Homo sapiens: one gene and its partners. The protein of the gene in region 1 interacts with the protein of each later gene in a pairwise test. Each region holds a gene or a part of one and is shown in the gene's direction. Other genes may lie near its edges. The genes, in order: RHEBL1, ATXN1 and APPL1.

Region 1 (8,096 bases):
TTTTCCCAGAGATACTTAAAACAGTTTTCTGGGAACATCTTATCTTTATTTTGTCTCAGTTGTTTGAGACATAGCAATGTATGATGCTGTCCTAGAAATGTTATTTCAGGCCAGGCTTGGTGGCTCATGTCTGTAATCTCAGTGTTTTGGGAGGCTGAGGAGGGATTGCTTGAGGCCAGGAGTTCAAGACTAGCCTGGGAGCGACCCCATCTCTACAAAAAAAAAAAAAAAAAAAATTAGCTGGGCATGGCAGTGCATGCCTGTATAGTCTTAGGCTACTCAGGAGGCTGAGGCAAGAGGATCACTTGAGCCCAGGAGTTATGGGCCACAGTGAGCTATGATGGCACCACTGCACTCCAGCTTGGGTGGCGGAGTGGTACCCTGTCTCTAAAACACAAAAACAGGCTGGGAGCGGTGGCTCACATCTGTAAACCCAGCACTTTGGGAGGCTGAGGTGGGTGGATTGCTTGAGTCCAGGAGTTTGAGACCAGCCTAAACAACATGGTGAAACCCCATCTCTACTGAAAATACAAAAATTAGCTGGGCATGGTGGTGCATGCCTGTAGTCTCAGCTACTCAGGAAGCTGAGGTAGGAGAATCACCTGAGCTGAGGAGTAGAGGCTGCAGTGAGCCAAAATTATGCCACTGCACTCCAGCCTGGGCAATTGGAGTGAGACCCTGTTTCAAAAATAAATAAATAAAAAAAAGTAAAAATAATAAAAAACAAAAAAAATCTTATTCCAAGCCCATTTATCTAACATTAGGATGAATTGCTTCCTTTATTTATATTATTATTATATAAATAATATATAATAAATATGTTTATTATCTATTAAATAATATTTATATATAATATTTTAAAATATTTTTTTGACTTATCTCCAAGTTCTATTTTTCCTTTATTTGATCCTATTTTTTTGATCTTTACTAAATAAACCATTTGTACATTACTTTTTTTTTTTTTGAGACAGAGTCTCGCTCTGTCAGCCAGCCTGGAATGCAGTGGCGCAATCTTGGCTCACTACAACCTCCATCTCCCAGGTTCAAGTGATTCTCCTGCCTCAGCCTCCCGAGTAGCTGGGATTACAGGTGCCTCCCACCATGCCCGGCTAAATTTTGTATTTTTAGTACAGACAGAGTTTCACCATGTTGGTCAGGCTGGTCTCAAACTCCTGACCTGATGATTCACCTGCCTCAGCCTCCCAAAGTGCTGAGATTACATGTGTGAGCCACTGTGCCCGGCCTATGCATTACTTTTTAAAGTGATTGATATTTAATGAACAACTATTTAATCAACCAATATCTTGGTCCTAAAATGTGCAGGTTTTATAGATTGGCTCATGAAACATTTATTTTTTTGTTTTTTTGGAGATGGAGTCTCGCTCTGTTGCCCAGGTTGGAGTGCAGTGGCGTGATCTCGGCTCAGTGCAACCTCCACCTCCCAGGTTCAGGCGATTCTCCTGCCTCCGTCTCCTGAGTAGCTGGGACTACAGGCATGCACCACCATGCCTGGCTAATTTTTCTATTTTTAGTAGAGACGGGGTTTCACCATGTTAGCCAGGCTGGTCTCAAACTCCTGATCTCAGGTGATCCGTCTGCCTCAGCCTCCCAAAGTGCTGGGATTACAGGCGTGAGCTACTGTGCCCGGCCCCAGCTAATTTTTTATATTTTAGTAGATACCGGGTTTCGCTGTGTTGCTCAGGCTGGTGTCGAAACCCTGAGCTCAGCTCAGGCAATCCACCCGCCTTGGCCTCCCAAAGTGCTAGGATTACAGGCGTGAGCCACCGTGCCTAGCTTCTTTTTTTTTTTTTTTTTTTTTTTTTTTTTTTGATACAGGGTCTTTGTTGTCCAGGATGGAGTGCAGTGGCACAAACATGGCTCACTGCAGCCTCAACCTCCTTGGGCTCAGGTGATCCTTTCACTTCAGCCTTCCAAGTAGCTTGAGACTACAGGCACGTGCCACCATGCCCGGCTAATTTTTCTTCTTTTTTTTTTCTGTATTTTTTATAGCAACAGGCTTTTGCCATGTTGCCTACCTAGGCTGGTCTCGAACTCCTGAGCTCAAGCAATTCACCTGTATGGCCTCCCAAAGTCCTGGGATTACAGGCCTGAGCCACCACGTCAGGCCAAAACATTTATTTATAATCACATTGTCTTTTGCCTTCCTTTACTATAGACATTGGAAAAGAAAATGCTAAAATTTCCAGGTTCCCTTACAACTAGAAATGACTATATAAAACAATCTTGTTCAATGAGATGTAGGTGAATATCTGCTGTGAGAGCTTCCCTTACCAGGTAAAAAGAAAAAGTCACAAGAGGAGAAAGCCCTTTGCCTTGGCTCTTTTGCTTTCTCTCTGATTCAAAACAGGAGAATTCAGATGGTTTAATAAAGAGACTATTTACAAAGATGTGGGCAGGGTATAGGGAGACCACAACAGATAGAGCAATGCCCCAAGGTGAATAACAGAAAAGAGGCTGATACTGCTATAGGCATAAAGGCTGAGGGGAGTCACTGAAAACCAGGAGAGAGCTGTGTGTGTGTGTGTTGGAGGAGGCAGCTGCCTTGAGAGGTACTGTGACCTTCAATGGGGGACAGAGCCACTCTCCTCTGTCCATTGAATCTTCTGTGTGTGCTTTCCTTTGGCTGAGCTTCACTGAAAGCCAGGAGACAAGGTCTGCCTCCTGGACATAAATCTGGGTGGAAAAGAATGGAGAGTTCATATGGACGGGACAAGCAGTATAAAAGGCATCTGTTATTTATTTCTGTATCCTAGTGTGCAACACATAGTAAGAGTGCCTGGCACAAAGTAGAAGATGAATATATATATATATATATATATATATTTTTTTAAGATGGAGTCTCACTCTGTCTCCCAGGCTGGAGTGCAGAGTACAATGGTGCAATCCCGGCTCACTGCAACCTCTGCCTCCCGTGTTCAAACGATTCTCCTGCCTCAGCCTCCTGAGTAGCTGGAATTACAGGCATGCACCATCACGCACGGCTAATTTTTGTATTTTTAGTAGAGACGGGGTTTCACTATGTTGGACAGGCTGGTCTCGAACTCCCGACCTCAAGCGATCCGTCCACCTCAGCCTCCCAAAGTGCTGGGATTACAGGCATGAGCCACCATGCCCGGCCTAGGGCTTTTGTGAATATTAAATGAGATAACAATAAAATGCACCTGGCACATAGTATAGTCGAACTCTCTATAAATCTAGGTGATTTCCTTCCTTTCTTCCCTCCTCTACCAATCCTTCCACAAGTCATTTTAACCTTAGCTTCAGAATATCCTGAATTCTCAACTTCATTCAACATGATCACTCTAGTCAAGCGCTCTCATCTCTCACCTGGACTACAGGTAACAGTTTCCTCGCCAATCTCCCTGCTTCCTTTTGCTCCTGTTACCCTCAAACCCCAATCTATTCACTACAGCCAGGGAGATTTTTTAGAAAGACAATTTAGATCATGTCATGCCCCAGCTTAAATACCTTCAAGTACTTAGAATTAGCCCAGACTCCTTTATGTGGCCTGGCCTCTGCCATTCTCTTAGACTTCATCTGCTTTAGGCTAACTGGCTTTCTTTTTTTCTTCCCCTCTTCCTGGAATTTACCCAATTTATTTCCATCTTAACGCCTTAGCATTGGTGGATTCTTCTTGTGAAATCTCCTAGTTGGTTCCTTCAGATCTTAGTTTAAATGGGGTTTCCTATGAGAGAAAGTATCACTAAAGTGGTCATCTCAGCCAGGCTCGGTGGCTCACGTCTGTAATCCCAGCACTTTGGGAGGCCGGGTCAGGTGGATCACTTGAGGCTAGGCGTTCGAGACCAGCCTGGGCAACATAGCAAAACCCCATCTCTCCCCAAAATACAAAAATTAGCCAGTCTCATAACCCTGTCTCAAAATAAATAAAGAAAAAAAATTAAAAATGCTGTATTGTCTTTAAAAAATAAAGTGGTCGGCCGGGCGCGGTGGCTCACGCCTGTAATCCCATCACTTTGGGAGGCCGAGGCGGGCGGATCACGAGGTCAGGAGATGGAGGCCATGCTGGCTAACACGGTGAAACCCCGTCTCTACTAAAAATACAAAAAATTAGCCGGGCGCGGTGGCGGGCGCCTGTAGTCCCAGCTACTCTGGAGGCTGAGGCAGGAAAATGGCGTGAACCCGGGAGGCGGAGCTTGCAGTGAGCCGAGATAGAGCCACTGCCCTCCGGCCTGGTAGAAAGAGCGAGATTCCGTCTCAAAAAAAATAAAAATAAAAATAAAAAAATAAAAAAAATAAAGTGGTCATCTTTCATCACACCATCTTCTACAGCACTTAACACTCTCTGATATTTCCTTGTTGTATGTTTGTTTCTCCCTTCATAAGAGCAGACACATTGTCTGTGATGTCCATGTTCTGACCCCAAAGCTGGAGCAATGCCTGAAACATGTAGTATATACTCAGTATTTGTTGAAAAATGAATATTTGAGGATCATGATGATGAAGAAGAAACCTCAGACTACTTGATCATAAATTCTAGCAATTTCTGCAAGAATAAGAATTGCAGTTTGAAATTAGATGCTGGAAGACTGGAAACCTTGATAGGTCTGGGGCTGAAGGCTGGGGGAAGCAGAAGGAATATACTAGAACTTTGGCGGTTTTCTCCCTATCTAAGGACCCCAGAGACCATGCAAAAGGGAGGGCTAGAATCTTATGACCGGAAACCACAAAACGGGTATTTTCCATCCATAATTCTTCGAAGCCACTTCAGCTAGGCTGTAAATGCGCAAACGCCTTTAGGACCCCGGGTTCCTTTCTGTTTCTTTATGAATGAACCGGCTCCAGTCTGCGCACGCGCAGCTCCCAGTTCTCCCGCTCCACGTGAGGCCCACCCTTCCCTCCTGCTGGCGGCACCGCCCTTACCCATTCTAATGGACCAATGGCGAGCGGCCTGGGGGGCGGAGCCCGGCGCGGCGCGGCTCAGTAGTTCCCCGGGCGCCCGGCTCCCTGGCGTTAGACGTGCTGTGTTGTGATCACGTGGGCAGCTCCGGGCGCGGCGCTTGTTTTGGTTTCCTTCTAACTTGCCCACGGCAGCTTCGGGGTGAGCGACTTTCCTGCACCAGCTGCCGCGCCTGCTCACACCCTGACCTCGTTTTCGGGCTCTCTGAGCCCGCAGTTCCGCAAGCCCCTGGGGCGGGCTCCTGCCATGCCGCTAGTCCGCTACAGGAAGGTGGTCATCCTCGGATACCGCTGTGTAGGTGAGTCTCCGCCCTGCAGAGCTCGGACGCGCAGCAGCTTTGTAGCCAGAAGAGGCGCGCTGCCGTGGGAACGCGACCCAGGGAGGAATGATGACATCGTAAGGATGGGGTTGTAGAGCGAGGATTGGAAGAGTGGAGGAATGGAAGAGTGGAGGATTGGAAGAGTTGGTGGTGTGTGGAGGCTGCAGGAAGCGGGAGCACTTAAGGGTTAATGCGGACCTGGCTGCGGGAATCTCAGAGTGGTCCCAGCGTTACTTTGGGGATAGGGGTGGGGTCACAATTTGAAAACCGGGACGCGGTCTCCGTGGGGACAGATAGTCGCAGGTGTCCTGGGGCGGGGCGGACTTGATCCTAGGGAATCTTGGATCTTCCTACGAGTGGGATGGGGTGGGGAAGGCGGCGGGAAAGGCTTCCTGCTGCGCTTCTGAATGCATCCGGTAGCCAAAGTGCGGAGACCCTGGGTGAAAAGAGGGTGAGGGTAGACACAAAGGATAGCATTGCTTGAGGCACTCACAGACTGTGGTGTTAATTTGGGGTCTCCTTTGGTCCTGGGCCACAGTCCGAAAGGACAGAGGATGTGAATGTGGATGGATGATTTGGATACAACTGTCACACTGCTCCCCACAGGGAAGACATCTTTGGCACATCAATTTGTGGAAGGCGAGTTCTCGGAAGGCTACGATCCTACAGTGGAGAATAGTGAGTAGACTTCTCCCCTAGTGTGCTGGTGGTATGCGACCCGGAGGGCTTGGATACCCCACCCAACTCCATAATTTATTTCTCTGGTGCCAAGGGGCTGATTTATTTAGACATTACATCTGATTTCTTCTTTAGCAATCCTGTTCGATGGATGGCTAGAGTATGGATTTTGCAAGATATTGAGTCTGGGATAGTTTAGATGTAGACATTAAGAACCTTAGCGTGTCTTTCCAGTTACCTGGATAACTCCCTGGAGCTGATCTATCTGTGTCACCCCCAAGGTTAAGAATGTAAGGGGAGGCTGGGCGCAGTGGCTCATGCCTGTAATCCCAGCACTTTGGGAAGCTGAGGCGGGCGGATGGATTGAGGTCTGGATTTCGAGACCAACCTGGCCAACATGGTGAAACCTCATCTCTACTAAAAATACCAAAATTAGCTGGGCATGGTGGCGCACGCCTGTAATCCCAGCTACAAAGGAGACTGAGGTAGGAGAATCGCTTGAACCCAGGAGGCAAAAGTGGCAGTGAGCCAAGGTCGTGCCACTGCACACCAGCCTGGGTGTCAGGGTGAGACTGTCTCAAAAAAAAAAAAAAAAAAAAAAAAAAGCTGGGCACCGTGGCTTATGCCTGTAATCCCAGTTCTTTGGGAGGCCAAGGCAGGTGGATCACCTGAGGTCAAGAGTTCGAGACCAGCCTGGCCAACATGGTGAAACCCCGTCTCTACTAAAAATACAAAAAATTAGCCGGACATGGTGATGGACATCTGTAATCCCATCTACTCGGGAGGCTGAGGCAGGAGAATTGCTTGAACCTGGGAGGCGGAGGTTGCAGTGAGCCGAGATCGTGCCACTGCGCTCTAGCCTGGGCAACAAGAGTGAAGCAATGTCTCAAGAAAAAAAAGAAAAAAAAAAAAGAATAAAAAGAATGTAAGGGGGAAGGGAGTGGGAGGGATGAAGATAAATTGATCAATGGGTACAAATATATAGTTTGATAGAAGAAATAAGACTTAGTAGATCAGTAGGGTGACTATAGCTTACAATAAGCTATTTTACATTTCAAAATAGCTAGAAGAGAAGAATTCAAATGGTTCTAGCATAAAGAAAAGCCAAATATTTAAGGTGATGAATATTCCAGATACACTTATTTGATCTTTACAAATTATATGAATGTATTAAATTGTCACATGTACCCTGAAACTTGGTACATCTATTATTCATCAATAAAACAAAAGTAATTACTTTATTTTTCTTTTCTTTTCAAGACAGTCTCGCTCTGTCACCCAGGCTGGAGTGCAGTGCCGCAATCTCAGCTCACTGCAACCTCCACCTCCTGGGTTCAAGCAATTCTCACGCTTCACCCTCCTGAGTAGCTGGGACTACAGGCATGCACCACCATGCCCAACTAATTTTTTGTATTTTTAGTAGAGACAGGGTTTCACCATGTTGGCCAGGCTGGTCTCAAACTCTTGGTCTTAAGTGATCCGCCTGCCCTGGCCTCCCAAAGTGCTGGGATTACAGGTGTGAGCCACTGCGCCCAACCAATAATCTACTTTAAAAAATGCTGCCAAAAAAAAAAAAAAAGGTAAGGAGACAGCCAGGTGCAGAGGTGCACACCTGTAGTTCCAGCTACTTGGGAGGCTGAGGTGACAGGATTGCTTGAGCCCAGGAGTTCCAGGCTATAGGGTGCTAAGAGTGCGCCTGTGAATAGCCACTGCTCTACAGCCTGGGCAACATAGCAAGACCTCATCTCAAAAAAAAAAAATGTAATTAGCCGGGCATGGTGGCAGGTCCCTGTAATCCCAGCTACTCGGGAGGCTGAGGCAGGAGAATAGCTTGAACCCGGGTGGCAGAGGTTGCAGTGAGCTGAGATCATGCCACTGCAGCCCAGCCTGGACAATAGAGTGAGACTCTTGTCTCAAAAAAAAAAAAAAAAAAAAGTCAGGGGACATACATCGCTGGTCCTATAAGGCACTTCACAGTCAAGTTTTCTTTTCTTTTCAGCTTACAGCAAGATAGTGACTCTTGGCAAAGATGAGTTTCACCTACATCTGGTGGACACAGCAGGGCAGGTACCAGTTGGGGTATGGTATCCAAATGTGGCAGTTCAGCCCTCGGAGATGAAGTCTGGTAGTCTTTGTGGCTCATCCGTAAAGTAGTATTAA
Region 2 (7,105 bases), on another chromosome or scaffold:
AGTAGGTCTCACGCATGAGTTTTCCTTGCTCGTTGGTATGGAAATGTGGGAGCGTTTGGCATTCCCTTTCTTAAGAGTGAGTCTTGAAATTTAAAGATAAAAGTTCATTATTAGAACTTCTTTTTACAAGGGAAGGCTGTACAGAACACAGTTATTTGTCACTTACAAAAACCCTAGGTGGGCAGGGCGCAGTGGCTCACGCCTGTAATCCCAGCACTTTGGGAGGTAGAGGCTGGTGGATCATTTGAGGTCAGGAGTTCGAGACCAGCCTGGCCAACATGGTGAAACTCCGCCTCTACTAAAAATACAAAAATTAGCCAGGCATGGCGGCAGCCGCCTATAATCCCAGCTACTCAGGAGGCTGAGGCAGGAGAATCGCTTGAACCCGGGAGGCGGAGGTTGCAGTGAGCCGAGATTGGCACATTGCCCTCCAGCCTGGGCGACAGAGTGAGACTCCATCTCAAAAAAAAAACACCTGGGTTGCGAGAGTAAATAAGTGACATTACTCCTTCAACACTTCATTTCTTCAGCATAAGTGTTTTAGGGTTTTTTTAACCTTATTTTTCATTTCCGTCCCAGTCTTTAAGCGCCTCTCTTGTCATATGAGAAATTCTATTCTTACTGAAATGTCCTTTGATATCGAGACACCAAATTTCTAAACCTGCACCTTCCTAGATATCTGATCAAAATCATTAAGGATTGAGAACTTTCTGTTGTATCATTTGTCATTTCATTATGATGTTCATTGATGATGTTGGAGCAAAACCAATAAGGGCCATTAAATCATTGCCCCTTCCAAGCTGGCTGCAGTGGCTCATGCCTGTAATCCCAGCACCGGGAGGCCAAGTGGGTGGATCACTGAGGCCTGTTCAAGACCAGCCTGGCCAACATGGCAAAACCCCACCTCTACAAAAAGTACAAAAATTAGCCGGGTGTGGTGGCGTGCACCTGTAGTCCCAGCTACCTGGGAGGCTGAGGTGGGAGGATCACTTGAGCCCAGGAGGCACAGGTTGCAGCAAGCCGAGATCACGCCACTGCACTTCAGTCTGAGCAACGAAGCAAGACCTTTTCAAAAAAAAAAAAAAAAAAAGGAAGGAAGGAAGGAAAAAAATCATTGCCCCCTCTAAAAAATAGTTACAAAGTAGGGGGCAGAGTAGAGAAAGGGGGTTATGTTTCAGTAGGGATTTCAGTGTTGCTCCAACATGGACAAGGATTGAATGCTGAAGGCCGCTACTTTATTGTGTTTGTTTTAAAATCGGATCATTGGCTACACACAGTGGCTCATGCCTGGAATCCTAGCACTTTGGGAGGCCAAGGAAGGAGGATTTCTTGAGGCCAGGATTTCAAGACCAGCCTGGTTAACATAGCAAGACCCCATCTCTCCAAAGAAAGAAAGAAAGAAAGAAAGAAAATCAGATCATTGAAAAGAGGGTCTGGATGTGAGATACCAAAACCCAAGGGTGTGGAATTCCCAAAGCCCAATCCCACAGCTCTCAGAATCACAGCATGTTGCACTGTGCATACCTACAGCTGCTACCTGTGGAAGCAATCACATCCGCTGCTTGCTAGCCTGGGTCATGTCAGTTCCACTGATATTTGGCCTCTTGTCTGTTGGGCATTGGTTTGCCCACACAGCAGCAGTAACTCAGACTTCAGTGGTTAGTAAGAGACTGAGATACTTGACCATAAGAACTGGCTCCAGGGTCACCATTTGTATGTCCAGGTTTGAACACACTGATCTGATTTGTCTGAAAGAGCTGTCGTCTCTAGTGTTAATGGCGAGTTGTTACTTTCCAATGAGAAAGGGGACGGTGTGAAGGGGAACTTCAATGACAACTTGAAAAGGAAGAGAGAGATGGACAAACCAAGCATGTAACCCACTGAGAAAACATTCAGTGCACTAGCCCTATTTTTGTATGGTATTTGGGTTTTTTAACCATAATCAAATTCGGTTTTTAACAGTCTCACTCCGTCATCATATGAGTGGCTGTACTGGGAATTCTTTTGAAACTTGCAGAGAACAGGATTATTTCTGGCGGCCTCTGCTGAGTTGGCGTGTGTGTGTGTGTTTGTGTGTGTGTGTATTAGGGAGAGGAAATCGTAGGTCCAGTGTGGACCCAGAGCTAAGGGGAATCTTGGAGAGTAGTGGCTCTGGCAGATGAGGATTCAGAAATCGAGTGCAAGGACTGTTCTGGACTTTCACTGCTAACCTGCTTTTTCTCAGTGCCTGGCTCTGAGGGCAGGGTCCAGCTGGTGTCATGCTCTCCAAGGGCTTCATTTTATGTTCCAGCCAGGCAAAGGAGAGGTGAGAAATGGAACCAACATTTCTGAAAAGGAAATTTAAGAACTGCATCATCTGCCCTTGAAGAAGAAAAGGAGAAAAAAAAACAGGAGAGAGGGTATTGAGAACATCTTAGGGGAGTTGTTAACTCCATTAAAAAATATATGTGTTACAGTGTTCACTTGCCCAGTGTCTTCATAATCTTCCTTTATAATGTGCAGCTGCCACGGCTAGTGTTTTTGTTTTTGTTGTTGTTGTTTTGTTTCGTTTTTGGAGACAGAGTGTCGCTCTGTTGCCCAGGCTGGAGTACAATGGTGCAATCTCGGCTCACTGCAACCTCTGCCTCCTGGGTTCAAGCAATTCTCCTGCCTCAGCCTCTCAAGTAGCTGGGACTACAGCCGTGTGCCAGCTAATGTTACACCAGGCTAAATTTGTTTTTTATTTTTTATTTTTGGTAGAGACGGGGTTTCACCATGTTAGCCAGGATGGTCTTAATCTCCTGACCTCGTGATCTGCCTGCCTCGGCCTCCCAAAGTGTTGGCTAGTGTTTTCTCTGCTTCAGTGCTTGGGGTATGATTGGGTTATGGGAGTTCACACCGAGTCCAGGGCCTAGTCTTAATCTTGCCAAAGATGTTCTTTCCCCGGTGCTCATGTTCTGATGTCCTTTCCCTCCTTCCCTTTCTCCTCCCTTTCCTTTTCCCTTTGTCACTGCCCTCTTCCCTTTCCCAGCATCCAGAGCTGCTGTTGGCGGATTGTACCCACGGGGAGATGATTCCTCATGAAGAGCCTGGATCCCCTACAGAAATCAAATGTGACTTTCCGTTTATCAGACTAAAATCAGAGCCATCCAGACAGTGAAACAGTCACCGTGGAGGGGGGACGGCGAAAAATGAAATCCAACCAAGAGCGGAGCAACGAATGCCTGCCTCCCAAGAAGCGCGAGATCCCCGCCACCAGCCGGTCCTCCGAGGAGAAGGCCCCTACCCTGCCCAGCGACAACCACCGGGTGGAGGGCACAGCATGGCTCCCGGGCAACCCTGGTGGCCGGGGCCACGGGGGCGGGAGGCATGGGCCGGCAGGGACCTCGGTGGAGCTTGGTTTACAACAGGGAATAGGTTTACACAAAGCATTGTCCACAGGGCTGGACTACTCCCCGCCCAGCGCTCCCAGGTCTGTCCCCGTGGCCACCACGCTGCCTGCCGCGTACGCCACCCCGCAGCCAGGGACCCCGGTGTCCCCCGTGCAGTACGCTCACCTGCCGCACACCTTCCAGTTCATTGGGTCCTCCCAATACAGTGGAACCTATGCCAGCTTCATCCCATCACAGCTGATCCCCCCAACCGCCAACCCCGTCACCAGTGCAGTGGCCTCGGCCGCAGGGGCCACCACTCCATCCCAGCGCTCCCAGCTGGAGGCCTATTCCACTCTGCTGGCCAACATGGGCAGTCTGAGCCAGACGCCGGGACACAAGGCTGAGCAGCAGCAGCAGCAGCAGCAGCAGCAGCAGCAGCAGCATCAGCATCAGCAGCAGCAGCAGCAGCAGCAGCAGCAGCAGCAGCAGCAGCACCTCAGCAGGGCTCCGGGGCTCATCACCCCGGGGTCCCCCCCACCAGCCCAGCAGAACCAGTACGTCCACATTTCCAGTTCTCCGCAGAACACCGGCCGCACCGCCTCTCCTCCGGCCATCCCCGTCCACCTCCACCCCCACCAGACGATGATCCCACACACGCTCACCCTGGGGCCCCCCTCCCAGGTCGTCATGCAATACGCCGACTCCGGCAGCCACTTTGTCCCTCGGGAGGCCACCAAGAAAGCTGAGAGCAGCCGGCTGCAGCAGGCCATCCAGGCCAAGGAGGTCCTGAACGGTGAGATGGAGAAGAGCCGGCGGTACGGGGCCCCGTCCTCAGCCGACCTGGGCCTGGGCAAGGCAGGCGGCAAGTCGGTTCCTCACCCGTACGAGTCCAGGCACGTGGTGGTCCACCCGAGCCCCTCAGACTACAGCAGTCGTGATCCTTCGGGGGTCCGGGCCTCTGTGATGGTCCTGCCCAACAGCAACACGCCCGCAGCTGACCTGGAGGTGCAACAGGCCACTCATCGTGAAGCCTCCCCTTCTACCCTCAACGACAAAAGTGGCCTGCATTTAGGGAAGCCTGGCCACCGGTCCTACGCGCTCTCACCCCACACGGTCATTCAGACCACACACAGTGCTTCAGAGCCACTCCCGGTGGGACTGCCAGCCACGGCCTTCTACGCAGGGACTCAACCCCCTGTCATCGGCTACCTGAGCGGCCAGCAGCAAGCAATCACCTACGCCGGCAGCCTGCCCCAGCACCTGGTGATCCCCGGCACACAGCCCCTGCTCATCCCGGTCGGCAGCACTGACATGGAAGCGTCGGGGGCAGCCCCGGCCATAGTCACGTCATCCCCCCAGTTTGCTGCAGTGCCTCACACGTTCGTCACCACCGCCCTTCCCAAGAGCGAGAACTTCAACCCTGAGGCCCTGGTCACCCAGGCCGCCTACCCAGCCATGGTGCAGGCCCAGATCCACCTGCCTGTGGTGCAGTCCGTGGCCTCCCCGGCGGCGGCTCCCCCTACGCTGCCTCCCTACTTCATGAAAGGCTCCATCATCCAGTTGGCCAACGGGGAGCTAAAGAAGGTGGAAGACTTAAAAACAGAAGATTTCATCCAGAGTGCAGAGATAAGCAACGACCTGAAGATCGACTCCAGCACCGTAGAGAGGATTGAAGACAGCCATAGCCCGGGCGTGGCCGTGATACAGTTCGCCGTCGGGGAGCACCGAGCCCAGGTAACGTTAGCCAGGGTGGCACAGGGATGGGACACCACACCGTGATGCCATCATCATCTCCTGGCAAGACGAATTGCTTCTATGAGGCAGGATTAAGGGTTCTCGGGTACACCTAGACCTTAGACTCGGCCTTTCCCAACTGCGTTCTCTAGAAAAAATAAGCCCCATTTCCCCGTGATCTCTGCTGTGTGTAATGAATTAACCTCCATGCATGGAGAGTGGGGCTAGTTATGGAGTCCTTGAGACAATCCAGAAACTCACCACTCTAGTTATTTTTTGAATTCTGTGATTAAGATGAGGAACCCTGATTAGGAAACGCTGCTGGACTTCAGGTCCTTCTAGTGGTCATTCGGCACTTTTTCTTACCAGGAAAAGACAGAGGATGCCGTTGGAGTGAGGGGATTAGATGCTAAAGCAATCATATCCCATTGCAACATCCATGTTTTAAAATATGTCTTATTAGCTGGGTACAGTGGTATATGCCTTCGGTCCCAGCTACTCCAGAGACTGAGGCAGGAGGATCACTTGAGCCCAGGAGTTCGAGGCTGTAGTGAGCTATGGCTGAACCTGTGACTATCACTGCACTCAAGCCTGGGCAACATAGCAAGGCCCGGTCTCCAACATATATATAATGTCTTATTATTTAGGTATGATAAGGCCAACAGATAGATCAGCAGACAACTCTCTTTGACGAGATAATTTTTATACTCTCTGATCCCAAGAGGAAAGGGCACTCTACACCAAGAGGTGTAGAACACCGTAAAGTGGGGGGCACCTGGGGAAGCCCCAGGTGGGTCAGGAGGTGGAGGGAGTGAGGGGAAATGTGGCAAACAACAGCCTTTATTGTGGTTTCATGGGAGGCAGGGTAAACGGGTTTAGGATTGGTTAGAGTGGATAATTCCAGTGTGCTCTGGGGTGTAGGGGCTGTCCTTAGTTGTCTGGCTGCTGGTGCTGGGGTGATCAATACAGGTGGAAGGGCTGGGCACAGTGGCTCACACCTGTAATCCCAGCACTTTGGGAGGCTGAGGCGGGTGGATCACCAGAGGTCAGGAGTTCGAGACCGGCCTGGCCAACATGGTGAAACCCTGTCTCTACTAAAAATACAAAAATTAGCCGGGCATGGTGGTGTGTGCCTGTAATCCCAGCTACTCCAGAGGCTGAGGTAGGAGAATTGCATGAACCCGGGAGGTGGGGATTGCAGTGAGCCGAGATCAGGCCACTGCACTCCAGCCTTGGACACACAGCAAGACTCTGTCTCAGACAAAAAAAAAAAAACAGATGGAAGGCAGCCCTAAGTGTGATGGACCAATATAGGAGGCTGCTGGGGAGTGGGCTCTGGACTGGTTAGTTTGCATATGAAAGTCAGGCTCCTAGGAATTAGCTCTGGACTGGTTGGTTTGCATATAAAAGTCAGGCCTCTAGGAATTAGCTAATCCTAGGAGAGACTATACCTCTGGGATCCACAAGACACTAAAATATCAAAGCATCAGAAAATAAAAGCGTGGTTAATACAATCTGAGAAGTCAGGGCTGTCCCAGGTGACCTGCTGGGCTTGGGGTAAAGTCAGCTGTAGCCAAGATGAGTCACTGGAAGTATGGTTAACGCTCTTAATTTCCACAGGCTCCTTCAATCTACCCTTTTCCAGGTTCTTAGATCGATTACATGCATTTATTCCACAGCCCATTTCTTTCACTGCCCAAGTTGCTGGGAGTCCAGCAGGTTCAGCCTGCAGCTGAGAGCTTTCCTGGCTATCGAGCGTACTTTCTACAAGTGTTTCCATCTAGGATTTGAAAACATTCAAATGGGACAGAGCCTCCTTCCAGCTTGAGTTGAAAATAGTCATGAAATAGCTGCTATTTGGGACATTCAGATAAAATAAAACAAGAAAAAAAAGATAAACTAATTAATGGTTTGAATTGTTTTGGGCATTTTTTTTTTTCATTTTTGAGACAGTGTTTCTTGTCTCCTAGGCTGGAATGCAGTGGTGCAATCATAGCTCACTGTGGCCTTGACCTCCT
Region 3 (7,105 bases), on another chromosome or scaffold:
GTCTAGGTTTTTCTAAATATAAGATCATCATATCATCTGCAAACAAGGATAGTTTGACTTCTTCCTTTACAATTTGGATGCCTTTTTTCCTCTCTTACCTGATTACTCATCTTCCATCTAAAAGGTGGAAAGGCTTTTTGTTTTTCTGCATTCAGTATGATACTAGCTGTGAGTCTGTCATATATGGCTTTTATTATGTTGAGCTATATTCCTTCTATACCAAGTTTTTTTGAGGGTTTTTAATCATGAAGGGATGTTGAACTTTATCAAATGCATTTTCAGCAGTAATTGAAATGATTAAATAGTTTTTGTCCTTTATTCTGTTGATGTGATGTAGCATATTGATTGATTTGCATATGTTGAACTATCTTTGCATTCCTGGGATAAATCCCACTTGGTCATGATAAATGATCTTTTTAATGTGTTGTTGAATTTGGTTTGCTAGTATTTTGTTGAGGATTTTTGCATCAATATTCATGAGATATATTGGCCTGTAGTTTTCTTTTTTTGATATGTCTTTGTCTGGTTTTGGTATCAGGTAATACTGGCCTCGTAGAATGAGTTTGGAAGTATTCCCTTCTCCTCTATTTTTTGGAACATTTTGGGTAAGATTGGTATTAGTTCTTCTTTAAATGTTTGGTAGAATTCAGCAGGAAAGCCATCAGGTACTGGGCTTTTCTTTACCAGGAGACTTTTTATTATGGTTTGGATCTTGTTACTTGTTATTGGACTGTTCAGGTTTTGGATTTCTTCGTGGTTCAATCTTGGTAGGTTGTATTTGTCTAGGAATTTATCCATTTCTTCTTGATTTTCCAATTTACTAGCATGTAGTTGCTCATAGTAGCCACGAATGATCCTTTGAATTTATGCAGTATCAATTGTAATGTCACCTTTTTAATCTCCAATTTTATTTGAGTCTTCTTTTTCTTAGTCTGGCTAAATGTCAGTTTTATCTTTTCAAAGAAACCAACTTTTTGTTATGTTGATCTTTTGTATTGTTTTCTTCATGTCAGATTCATTTATTTCTGCTCTGATCCTTATAATTTCTTGTAGTATTTTTATAGTTTTGGGTCTTATGTTTAAGTCTTTAATGTATTTTGAGTTGATTTTTGTGTATGGTGAGAGGGAGGGGTCTGGTTTCATTCTTCTACATGTGGCTCTCCAATCTTGCCAGAACCATTTATTGAAGAGGATATCCCTTCCCCAGTGAAAGTTCTTTGTCACTTTTGTTAAAGATCAGTTGGCTGTAAACAAGTGGCTTCGTTCCTGGGTTCTCTATTCTGTTCCATTGGCCATGTGTCTTATTTTTATAACAATCCCCTGCTGTTTTGCTTACTATAGCCTTGTAATATATTTTGAAGTTAGGTAATGTGATGCCTCCAGCTTTGTTCTTTTTGTTTAAGATTGCTTTGGCTATTTGCATTGAACCTATAGATTGCTTTGGGCAATATGGTTATTTTAACTATATTATTCTGATCCATGAGCATGGGATGTTCTTTTGTGTCTTCAGTCTCTTTCATCAGTGTTTTGTAGTTTTTTGTGTAAATAAAATTCTTATATAATTCTAAGATTTTTGGAAAAAACTCCCAAATTTTGCCTAGGCTTACTGAGCTGCTTGAGCAAAGCATCTCTGAATAGAGCCAAGCTGATGGTTTGGGCCTTCTGACTCTACAGACCCATGTTTTCCCTGCCACTGATAGCTGGTGCAATCTTTTAGCCTCTCATTTATGTTGGGAACCAAACATTATGTTGGGAACCAAAACCAGCCATTTTCAGATGTCTTCAGCTGAGAATAGCATTAGCAGCTGCATGCTTCTTCCTCGTAGGCCTTACTGTGACAGTAATGAATTTGACATAACAAGAAGTGGGGTATATATGAAGGTGAGAGTCAGCAGTGGAATCCTGTAGACTTCAAGGAAAACATACAAAGCCTTGGTTTGGGGGCTTGAGCATTCTTAAATATGCTTTTGCTTGAAGCAATGTATTAGGATTAGTTATAAAACTAGTTCCATCAGTTATTTGGATACTTGACATTTTTGCTTTGTTGTGAGAACTGCCTGAATTTTTCATACTTTTTCTCTTTTTAGATATGTGATTCTGTTGGACTGGCAAAACAGATAGCTTTGCATGCTGAACTGGTAAGAATCCAAGATGTGGCTGGGCACAGTGGTTCACACCTGTAATCGCAGCACATTGGGAGGCCGAGGCGGGCAGATGACTTGAGGTCAGGAGTTCGAGACTAACCTGGCCAACATGGTGAAACCCCATTTCTACTAAAAATACAAAAATTAGTTGGGTGTGGTGTCGTGCACCTGTAATCCCAGCTACTGAGGAGGTCTGAGGCACGAGAATGACTTGAATCCGGGAGGCGGAGGTTGCAATGAGCCGAGATCACACCACTGCACTCCAGCCTGGGCAACAGAGCGAGACTGTATCTCAAAAAAAAAAAAGGAATCCAAGATGCTTGATTTTCCAAGAATGTTAACTAAAATAGTATATTAGCTCTTTCATATTAGCAAGTAAATAAAATGATTTTGCTAAGCAAGGTTAACAGTGATACTATTACCAACATAGCATTTAGAATTTGGATAATTGTTTACCATTGAATATAAACTGTTGATGTGCTTTCTTATGTATAAATGCAAAAAAATATTGAAAGGTTACCATGTGATATTAACTGAAATGTCTAAAATTTAAAGTTATTTCATATTTAATTCATTAGTTTTATTCATCTGTTCTTTAGGATCGTAGGGCATCAGAAAAACAAAAAGAAATAGAGAGAGTAAAAGAGAAGCAACAGAAAGAACTCAATAAACAAAAACAGATTGAAAAGGTATACAGTCCTAATGTCTGGATCTTTATGTGTTGTTTGTGAAGACTTAATTCAGCACTATGACTTTCAGATTTGAATTTCCAAATGAAGGGCTGTTTCTGCTTGTTCAGCCACTTCATAAACAGATGATTCATACCATAGCAGAAAAGGGTCACATCTGTTTTTTGATATGATGTTTACATTATAGTTACGTTGACATGTAATATGACTGTTTCAAAAATATACCAGAACTTTAATATTTCAGAGGAGGTTGTCTCTGTCAAAGCAGTTGAGAGGCTGTGTAGACTTAACTGCCATTGCTGAAAGCCATTTTGCCTTCTATGGGGGGGAAATAAATAAATATATATGTTATATGAAATATATAATGAAATGTATATTTTTAATATTGCCAGGAGTGTCAAATCATTGTCCATCCAACAGAATAATTTTAAAAGACAAATTTCAGAGCAAAACTTGAAGAATGCATTAAATGATCCATGAAATTGTAAGAGCGTGTTATGGGTTGTAGATTGACAGTAGGAATAGAAAAGAGGAGACAGCTGGGATGCTTAGAACAGATCAATAAGCATTGGCTGTGGGCTGGCTCTCTGGACAAAGAAGAGGGAAGTGGCAAAGATGACATTGAAGTGAGGCTTTCTTGATAGGCGAGGCTGAGGGAAGGTGACACCTGATTTAGCAAAGATGAATTGGACAGGGATGGAGAAAAGGGCTGGAGAGGGGAAGGGAAAGGAGTGTGGGGGTGATCCCTTTCGAGGGTTTTACTATAATATATAGTGAGAGATGATTGATGATGGGCTTTATTTGGTTGTTGGTCATAAAAAAAGAAAGATAAAATATTAGATTTTAGTTTGAATGCTGGCTTTTATAGGATGGTGCCAAAATTCATTTTGGTGTTGTATTGTTTGGGTGTAGCTTTTCTTTTTATCAAGTTGTCAGAAGTATGCATACATATTTATGACAGAAGAAGTGGCTCTCAAGAATGTATCTTAACTGCATAATTTGCCATTTGACTGCAGACAAGTAACTTAGTTTCTTTTTTGTCTTTTCCACTAGGACTTGGAAGAACAAAGTCGGTTGATAGCTGCTTCCAGTAGACCAAACCAAGCCAGTAGTGAGGGGCAGTTTGTTGTCCTTAGCAGTAGCCAGTCAGAAGAGAGTGATTTGGGAGAAGGAGGAAAGAAGAGAGAATCAGAAGCATAAGCTTATACTTTTGGTAGATATTCCCCCTTGGAATTTGACAGTTTCTATGGTGAAATGGCAGAAGGTAACAACTATGTTGAAATATCAAGGAGGAGATTAAGCTTTATATTTGCTTATTTGTTGTAGCTACATTTTAAAAAAAAGATTGAACTTGATGACTTAGGTTTGCATTGATCTTTTTTCCCCCTTAAACATAATGTACTATGTATTAACATCTAAAGGAAACCTGCTCATCTCCCTGAAGCAGACTGCTGAGGAATTACATTTGCTCAAGAATTTTTTCCGTCAAATTGTGAACTTTTAATTCTTGCATTGTAATTGGCTGTGTCCATAAGAAATCATTTATTCTTCAGGCTTAGACATTCATGGATATGCTTTTCTTTCATTAGGAACATTTTGCTGGTGATGAGGAAGCATTTAGCTGAATAAGTTTAAAGCCCTTTATACAGAGAATTCTACAAGTTTGCAAATATTTTAACAATATTAAATGTGCAATAGAACTTTTATAAAATAATTAGAACAGAGATTTTACAGTTAAGGTTTCAAATTGTGGCAGGTGGTACTGTTGATCTCAGGGTACTTTCTGGGATTGCTCACATTTCTCTAATGTACTGCACTTGATGCCAGTAGGAAAGAAGCTTAAGTGTCTTCAGTTCAAGATTGATAGAGCCCTTGGCATTTTATTATCACATTCTTAGTTCTCAGGTTGGGACTTCAATTACTGCTGCAGAGCAGTAGTGGTTAAAAATAAGATATTGGAATTTATTAAAAGATTTTTGTTCAATACATTTTAGATTAGGATTGACAAGTAAAGATACTGCTATGGAATGATACATTGTATTTTCTGCATTGTGTGAAATAGTTTTTATTGAAAGTCAAGTGACATTTCAAAAGAAGTTCTATAACAATTATGTTTCATGCTTAAAGTAAAAATTCCCAGAGTTTAGTTTAGAAAATGTAATCTTTTAAATTTCAGACTGATATATTCCCAGTATTTTCATAATGCCATGTTTTGATAAAGTACTGAATCACCACTTTATATCCACAAAGGCAAATAACTAATGTATGATAATAGAATAATTTGCACTAATTATTGTAAATATGTCTACTCTTCAAATGAGTAAAAGGTCCAATTTTGTGAAAGATTGAAAATGAATTGAATGCCTAGTAGAGTATAGGAGAAGTTGACCAAGGAAGGATTTAACCTGGTGCCAAGGTTAAAATAACATTTCTCTACTGCCTATTGTTTATGTTAAACCTTAATTTTTTTTCTGTAATCACTTTTAACACTGCTAATAGAAATTATGTTTTCATGTGTTTCACATGAAAAAGTATATATATACAAAGTTAATATAGTGGGTAAAATACTTTACATAGTCACACATTTACAAATTTTTCAAGAGGTTAGCCACTAAGACTTTAATAATTTTACAAGGGAAAAAGCCTTTTTTTTTCTTTGATATACAGTTTTTTCTTCTTAGTTCTGCATTAGAAATGGCATCTGTTTTAGGTCTCAAAATATAACTCAGCTGTTTCACACTGTATATGTACATTGTTTTCTGTAGGAATAGGATAATGATATATAGGATCATGATATTCCTTCTATCCATGTGCCAAATGGGTGTAATGTTTATTTACTGATGCTTTATGTTACCAAAACATACAGTAAAAAAGTAGAAATTTATGAAATACTTTTGATAAAAAGTTTATTTTGTGCTTACCAAAAGGAATGCTTTCACAATAGTGTATCAGTTCTTTTGTTTTGTTAAAGTTGGAATTTATTCTGTTGCCAGCATTTAAGTAGTCATGGCAAGTCCTGTTTTTAAGACCTTTTGGAGACTGGAGCTTTCTGTTCCATTAAGTCTTTTGTTTATACTACAAATTGTCACCTCACTTAGTTCAGATGAAATCTGTTACTCTACAAGGAAGGTGTTCATCATTAGGAGGCAGCTTTACTAAGCTGGTGCTTTGCATGGTAGCAAGTGCTGCCCTTTATCAGCACCCTGGGTCATAGTGTAGGCTAGAGTTAAGGCACTGGCAGACTTAGGGATGCTGGACAGACCTGTAGTTCGTTTTAAGTCATGTTCACAGGAATTTCTACAATAATAAACCCATCATCTCCATAGGTCAGATCGAAGTGCATTCCAATGCTAAATAGAAGTTATGAGTGGGTTTAACAATTTTAGATGATTCAGCTTTTGTTCCATTACTGTTGAACTATATGAACTATTCCATTACTGCAGAGATTTAAGTATCTGTTTTAATAAGCTCTTTTTGTTATTTAAAGGCTGCCCATGGGTTTCTGCCTAGTGGTAAAGCTGATTGTTACCCTCCTTTGAAATCCCTTCTAGTTCTGAGATGCTTTGAGGGTAACTGGATTCGATTTTGGGATATCTTTTCTCACATTCAGACTTACACTTAATGGTGTTAGAAATCAACAAAACTCCTTTTTAAAAAGAAAAGATATTAAGCCTGCCTACTTCTACAATGCATTCTGTTACCTATTTGAACAGTATGTTTGTAACTATGGCAATGAAGTCAGTAGATAGGAAACCAGTTATTCCTTCTACCTTTAAAAATTTTGAGAACTTGCCAACCAGGGATTAAAGCTATTATCTTGAACAGAGTCCCTAAAGCTAGTCTAGTTTTTGCCACATCTGCAATGATTATTGTTTAATTTCAAAAGAATCCTCAGGCTCTACAATCTAGGGGTGGTAAATGTGTTTCCACTATACTTGGGAAAAGGTCAGTAGGATGTGCATCCTAGGGAAGATAAAATCGTATATGGTAAAGGCATTTGAGTTAATTTTGCATTATATCTAGGAACCATATTATTTAAAATTTGAATCCTATTAATGCTGAGAGATCCTAAGAGCTAGTATGTTGTAAAACCTGCCACCTGAATAAAATGAAAAAAAAAGTGTTTTTTTGAGACAGAGTCTTGCTCTGTTGCCCAGGCTGGAGTGCAGTGGTGTGATCTTGGGTCACTGCAAACTCCGCCTCCCAGGTTCACGCCATTCTCCTGCCTCAGCCTCCCGAGTAGCTGGGACCACAGGGGCCCACCACCGCGCC

The links.
Region 2: the proteins of RHEBL1 (region 1) and ATXN1 interact in binary tests that used the Homo sapiens proteins (3 or more experiments, as listed by UniProt).
Region 3: the proteins of RHEBL1 (region 1) and APPL1 interact in binary tests that used the Homo sapiens proteins (3 or more experiments, as listed by UniProt).

What each region holds. Positions count from the first base shown.
Region 1 is NC_000012.12:49,066,875-49,074,970, reverse strand, and holds the start of RHEBL1 (GTPase RhebL1), read left to right. Parts: upstream 1-4,991; 5' UTR 4,992-5,185; coding exon 5,186-5,237; intron 5,238-5,796; coding exon of another isoform or gene 5,797-5,864; coding exon 5,865-5,936; intron 5,937-7,935; coding exon 7,936-8,003; intron 8,004-8,096.
Region 2 is NC_000006.12:16,324,376-16,331,480, reverse strand, and holds part of ATXN1 (ataxin-1), read left to right. Parts: intron 1-3,010; 5' UTR 3,011-3,049; coding exon of another isoform or gene 3,050-3,139; 5' UTR 3,140-3,170; coding exon 3,171-5,087; intron 5,088-7,105. Other genes in the region: uncharacterized LOC127903862, read left to right, coding at 3,050-3,139. UniProt on the Homo sapiens protein: Chromatin-binding factor that repress Notch signaling in the absence of Notch intracellular domain by acting as a CBF1 corepressor. Binds to the HEY promoter and might assist, along with NCOR2, RBPJ-mediated repression. Binds RNA in vitro.
Region 3 is NC_000003.12:57,265,655-57,272,759, forward strand, and holds part of APPL1 (DCC-interacting protein 13-alpha), read left to right. Parts: intron 1-2,087; coding exon 2,088-2,138; intron 2,139-2,687; exon of another isoform or gene 2,688-2,743; coding exon 2,744-2,833; exon of another isoform or gene 2,834-3,886; coding exon 3,887-4,033; 3' UTR 4,034-7,105. UniProt on the Homo sapiens protein: Multifunctional adapter protein that binds to various membrane receptors, nuclear factors and signaling proteins to regulate many processes, such as cell proliferation, immune response, endosomal trafficking and cell metabolism.